Linked DNA regions of Homo sapiens: region 2 is linked to region 1. Evidence: fine-mapped expression QTL. A gene starts in region 1. The other region holds a variant in brackets. All regions are shown on one strand. Distances are between the middles of the regions. Region 1 holds the start of ERO1B (endoplasmic reticulum oxidoreductase 1 beta). Region 2 overlaps ERO1B (endoplasmic reticulum oxidoreductase 1 beta).

Region 1 (2,911 bases):
TATATAAAAAGAGAAAATGGGAACTCTCATTTCAGAAAAATATCGAATTGTAAATTTCACTCAGAAACACTCAACTAGTGACTAGAAAATAATTTTGCCAAAGACAATTTGGAAAATTTACTTTAGTAAGTCTGCCCAGATTACCACTATCTATTCCATCTCAGTGTTTTCCAAGTGAGGTCCAAGAGGTAGTCAAAAGATAACTTTGCTACAGTTATACTGTACTTGCAATGTTTGTTTAAAATGCTGATATCTGGGCCATATTCCAGATCCAATCAATACATGTGGAGGTAGGGCCAGAGAATCTGCATTTTAACATGTTCCCCAATACCAAAAATTTGCCCCTTTTATTTTTATGGTTCAAACACAGACACAAACGGACTATTCAGGCACTCTGGGATTTAGTGCAGGGCACCATAAAACCATGAAATAAAGTGACTCAATTCAGAAAAACATGTTTTCACGGTTACACTCAGAGTCACCTTCAATTTTTCTTGGATGAGCACTAATTGCTTCAAATGACATCTCCCCTCATCATCAGGCCACCTGAGACCTTCGTTTTATTTTTTTGGCCCTCAGCAGTGCTGCCTCCTTGCAGCAGGTGCAGACAACAAGCAGCAGCACCTGGCAATCAATTCAAATTCTACTGAATAGAAGCAAACACCTCTCTGAAGGCGAAAGGATCTGGTCAGCTAAGCCTCAGATTTCTAGCACACTGAGAACACTTGTAATCATCGCTTCACATCAACAACCAGCCAGCACCTCACGACTGCCAGAGCCAGAGCCTCCATCCACGAGCCACAACGCCCCACTCAGACCCCCCCAGTCTCGTATTGGGACTTACCTGGCGATGCCACTTGGCAGACACAGCTCAGCTGGGTAAAAATAAAGCAATCTTGAGCAAGGGAAGGTGCTCGAGGAAGAGTAAAAGCCCAGAAAGCTCTAGTCCGACAGTTCGAGTGAAGTCTTGCCCCCTCCCAATCCCCTGCGCCTGGCGGGGCCTCGGGGGTCTGCGGAGTGCCCCCAACTCTCAGTCTCCCTCCCTCACTAACTCCTGAAGGGAAGGACGTCACCGTTTCTCTGGGCGCTCGCTCCCTTCGCAAGACAGCCGAGGTGGTTCATGCCCGTCCCATCTCCCGCCACACTCCCAGCCGCTTAACACATCCGAGAGGAAAAAACGAAAACAGCTCAGGGGGACCGTCACCATCTTCCTCTTTTGACTGCCATTACCCGGAGTGTCGCCGTCCCCCCACCCTGCGGGCGGTTCGCAGATGTTTCCCGCACTGGACGGTCAGGTCTCTGCTCCCCGGGTTTTCTGCTCGCCAGAAATCACCTCTTTTCTGGCCCGGCCCTGCCCGGCCCTCCCCGCGTCACAGCCGCGGCCCGTGTGTAGCGGCCGCGGGTGTTCGGCCGGGGGTTCCCGGCCCGCTATCACTCGGGCTTACCTGCGCCTCGACGACGCTCCGCAGGAAGCTCAGGGTGACCAGCAGCTGCACCGCGGCCGCTACCCCCTGCCCAGCGCCTGCCCGGCGGACCCCTTGGCTCATGCTGACCTCTACCCACACCGCGGCCAGCCGGACCCCTCGGGGCCGGGGAACGACGGGCGGCCCAGGCGACGACCCAAGGGGACGGTTCCCAGCGGCCGAGCGACTCCAGGGTCAGAGGTCTGCACTCCAGTCCGGAGGCAGGCGACTCTTTCCCCAACACCCGGCAGCTGCGAGTGAGGCAGGAAAGGCGAGCGCCCCCACTTCATCCCCCAGGCGGCCCCGCCCCCGGCTCGCTTGGCTCCTCGGCCACGCCCCCAAGCGCGGGGCCTTGTGGGAGTTGTGGTCCTGGGCGGTCGCCTAGGCGCCGCGGCAGGAAGGCGGAGCCGCTGAACGAGAGGACTCGGGAACTACAACTGCGAAGGCCGCCCCGCCTCCCCGAGGCCTCGGGCTCCGCGGCGGCCAATGAGGCGGGACCACGCGGGCCTCCAAAACACCGGGGGGTGCGGGCGGGGGAAGCGGGGCGACCTCTTCTCCGGGAAACCAGGCTGAGGACCTCTCTGCGTCGGTCCCTGCTGTCGCTCCTGGAGTCCTCGCAGACGCCAGGCTCTAGGATTCACCCAGTACGCGGGCGAGTTAGGAACGGACGGTGCGGGATCTTTGACTTTCGGTCTGAAGCGTATTCTTTGTCTCATTCATTTTTCTGTAGCCTCACATCTGCTGTGGGTGCCTATGTAAGCTACCTGTGACTTGTAGAGATGGCTTCGGCTCTTTTTTAATTTCATGCACCCTAGATGTGGATGTCATCTCCTGCCCCGCCCCAGCCCGACTCCTAGGTTGACACGTGCGAGTATAACGCATGCTAAAGAATGAAGACAAACCCAAAGGCTTATGATGAAATATGGGGATGGGGTAAAACAAAAAAAAACTTAGAGTGACATAGATTGGGCGCAGATCCCAACTCTAAAACATTCTAGCTAGTTATTGGGCCTTAATTCCCACCTCATATCTTGTTCTAGGGCTACATAAGATTAGATACAGAAAGAGCTGAGTATAGTGCCTAGCACCTAGGAAGCACTCAATAAATGGTAACTGCTATTAGTTTTATTAATGCCTTTGATTTCTACAAAACGAGTAATACATCTCCCTTGTGTTTATGTAGCGTGTATTAGTTTCTCATTGATGCTGTAAGAAACTATCACACATTTAGTTGCATACAACAAAAGAAATTCATTACCTTATAGTACTGGAGATCAGGTGTCCAAAATGGACCTGTAGGGCTGTGTTCCTTTTGGAGGCTCTCAGGGACAATGTGTTTCCTTACCTTTTCCAGCTTCCAGAGGCCACCTGCATTCCTTACCTCATGACTTCACATCTCCTTCACTCTCTCTGCTTCCCTCGTCACATGCCTTCTCTTGTGACCCTAA
Region 2 (2,911 bases), 50 kb before region 1:
AAAACATTATATGGTCATTTATAAAGTAGAATAAATTAGGTTTATAAAATCTTTCTGCAGGGCATGGTGGCTCATGCCTATAATCCTAGCACTTTGGGAGGCCGAGGTGGGCTGATCACTTGAGGCCAGGAGTTTAAGACCAGCCTGGCCAACATGGCGAAACCCCATCTCTACTAAAAATACAAAAAATTAGCCGGGTATGGAGGTGCAGGCCTGTAATCCAGCTACTCGGGAGGATGAGGCAGGAGAATTGCTTGGACCCAGGAGGCTAAGGTTGCTGTGAGCCGAGATCATACCACTGCCCTCCAGCCTGGGTGACAGAGTGAGACCCTGTCTCAAAAAAAAAAAAAAAAAAAAAAAAAATTATGACAGATTAAGTAATCTCTCTAAAATGTCTACTGCTTCAGGTAAAATAGAAAAATAACCATATGGTTCTAGGAAATAAAACCTACAAATAATTTAAGTAACTTTAAGAGAGTGTTTTTACAAATATTTTGACTATTAAATTTTTTAAGAAAACATTTCAGTCAAAATATGAGCTGGCCACAGTGGCTTGGACCTGTAGCCCCAGTTAACTCAGAAGGTTGAGGGGGAAGGATTGCTTGAGCCCAGGAGATCGGATCCAACCTGGGCAACATAGCAAGATCCTGCCTCTTTTAAAAAAAAAAAGTATATAAATCTTATTCATTGAAGGTGTAAATATCTGAAAACATAGGGCAAACATTTTAACGATCTCAAATTTGCTTTTCATAACAACCATAGTGCTTTTTAAATATTCCAAGAAAATAAGGAATTATAATTAACACAAACGTCCAACTATTGATTATTCCATTTTTCCTAATCCAATAAAACTAAAAATATTTCCTCAATTTTCTAAGACTAATAAGTTTTAAGGGACAGCTAAAAAATCTCTTAATTTTCAATATAATTCTTCAGGAAAGTTAATAGAATACAGAAGGGCTTGACTAATCTGTGTACTAATGCTGAAGAACATTCCTGGGGTCAGGGAGATGCTGGTCAAGGGATACAAAATTTCAGTTAAAGAAATGCAGTAAGTTCAAGAGATTTATTGTAGAACATGCTGACTACAGTTAATTACAACGTATTGTATTCTTGAAAATTGCTGCGATTTTAAGTGTTTTCGCCAAAAAAATGGTATGTGAGCTAATTAGCTCAATATACCCATTCCACAATGTATACATATTTCAAAACATGTTAAACACTTGAAAAAAAAAAAAAAAAAGAACCATTCCTGGCCCTGTAACCTTCTTCTGAGTTGGGGAAAGAGAAAGAAAAGAGAGCAGTCAATAAGAATCAAAATTGTTAATGCACTTCCTGCGTTACCTATCCT[T/C]GATGTTGTTTTTTTTTAAATTGAGAATGATAGAAATTATAGAAAAACCGAACACTCAGATGAGCTGAGTAAGGAGTCTAGGGATAAACTAGACGGTGGGGAATTACTTTGCCTCCTGAGAGTCTTCATACTTTGTACAAAAATGAAAACGTCTAACAAATTAATTCATTCAACATATAGTAAGGATCATTTATCATTATATCACTTGTGATTCAAAACACCTCAAGTGCCAACAGGAAAAGTCTAGTACCCAACGTACTAAAAAATATGGCCTCTATCAATCTAATTTAAACTACCACTATATAGTCTTACCTACCACTAAAAGGGTCTCTTTACTGTCTCCCCAAACATGCCTGACTTGTCTCAACTCCCAGCTGCATGCTGTTTCCTCCAACATGCACTATCCAATTGTACGGATCTAAATCTGTCCCATTATTCAAAATTCACCTCAAATGCTACCCCTCCTCCAGTAAGCTTTCCCACATCGCTCCTGTGAGATACGATCTGTTTCTCCTCTAAGGAGCTATATATATCACCTACTGTTTGTACCATCTATGGAGTATTTCTTTACCTCATTACCATTGTTTATGTACAGTGCTTATCTTTCCTACTATCCTATATATCCTCAGCTCCTAGAGGGAAAGCACCATGTTTTAAACATCTTCCTACCCTGGACAATGCCCATCAGTGCCCCTGAACACAGAGAGGTAAACATTCAGTTGAAATAATTATTTTGGCTATTTTGGGGGTATCTTTTAACCAACATTCATTCAATAATCAATTGTTAATAAATTGCTCGTCATCAAATTAAGTATTATATTGATACCTGAGGTTAGAAATTTCAGTCAATAAGAAAATAAAGAGGTCACAAGACAAATTATCTGGTAAAACTACCTTAACTCCTTCTCCCCACTTCCTCAGGACATATTCAAGTAAATTATATAATAACCAGAAAATGGGGAACTTGTAATGTGAATTGATTTACAAACTAAGCATTTAGGAAAAATGGTCTTTTTTTTTTAACATAGGATAACTTGATATATATAAAATAATCTTTTTTTTTTTGGTCACCATTCATTAGTAGCTATTTTCTTAGAAAACAGGAATACTTTCTTTTGAATTCCATAAAGGAAAAATCAAATTCTGATTGTTACAAAAAATTTCCTCCACACTTGAAACAAACAAACATGAGTTTTGCTCACCATCATCTTCGCCTAAAAGAGAAAATAATAGAAAAGATTTTAGAAAATGTCTTACATAGCTCAGATCCCAATACTATTTTTTGAGATTAAAACTGTTAAACTATTAATTATATCACAAACCTTGGTCACTGAGTAGACGCCCTGCAAATGAGTCCTCTTAATCAGAATACAGGTCAAAGAGTATAAGATTTGCACATTTTGGCCAGGCGTGGTGGCTCACGGCGGTAATCCCAGGACTTTGGGAGGCCAAGGTGGGTGGATCACCTGAGGTCAGGAGTTTGAGACCAGCCTGGCCAACATGTGAAACCCTGTCTCAACTAAAAATACAAAAATTAGCCAGGCATGGTGGCATGTACCT

What was found. PIP is the estimated chance that this variant, and not a neighbour inherited with it, causes the effect.
Region 2: its variant is fine-mapped to the expression of ERO1B in monocytes (TOPMed, PIP above 0.99).

What each region holds. Positions count from the first base shown.
Region 1 is chr1:236,280,237-236,283,147 of GRCh38, forward strand. ERO1B (endoplasmic reticulum oxidoreductase 1 beta) reads right to left here and starts at 1,722. Exons shown (of 16, transcript NM_019891.4): 1 at 1,446-1,722. The coding sequence starts at 1,547. RefSeq lists an enhancer at 1,117-1,316 and silencers at 1,387-1,436, 1,477-2,066.
Region 2 is chr1:236,230,275-236,233,185 of GRCh38, forward strand. ERO1B (endoplasmic reticulum oxidoreductase 1 beta) reads right to left here. Exons shown (of 16, transcript NM_019891.4): 9 at 2,554-2,565. All of the region lies in intron 1 of LOC124904561 (a long non-coding RNA gene), which reads left to right. Among named protein-coding and RNA genes, the nearest start is that of ERO1B, 50 kb to the right of the region's middle. The variant T/C (reference allele first, on the strand shown) is at 1,352.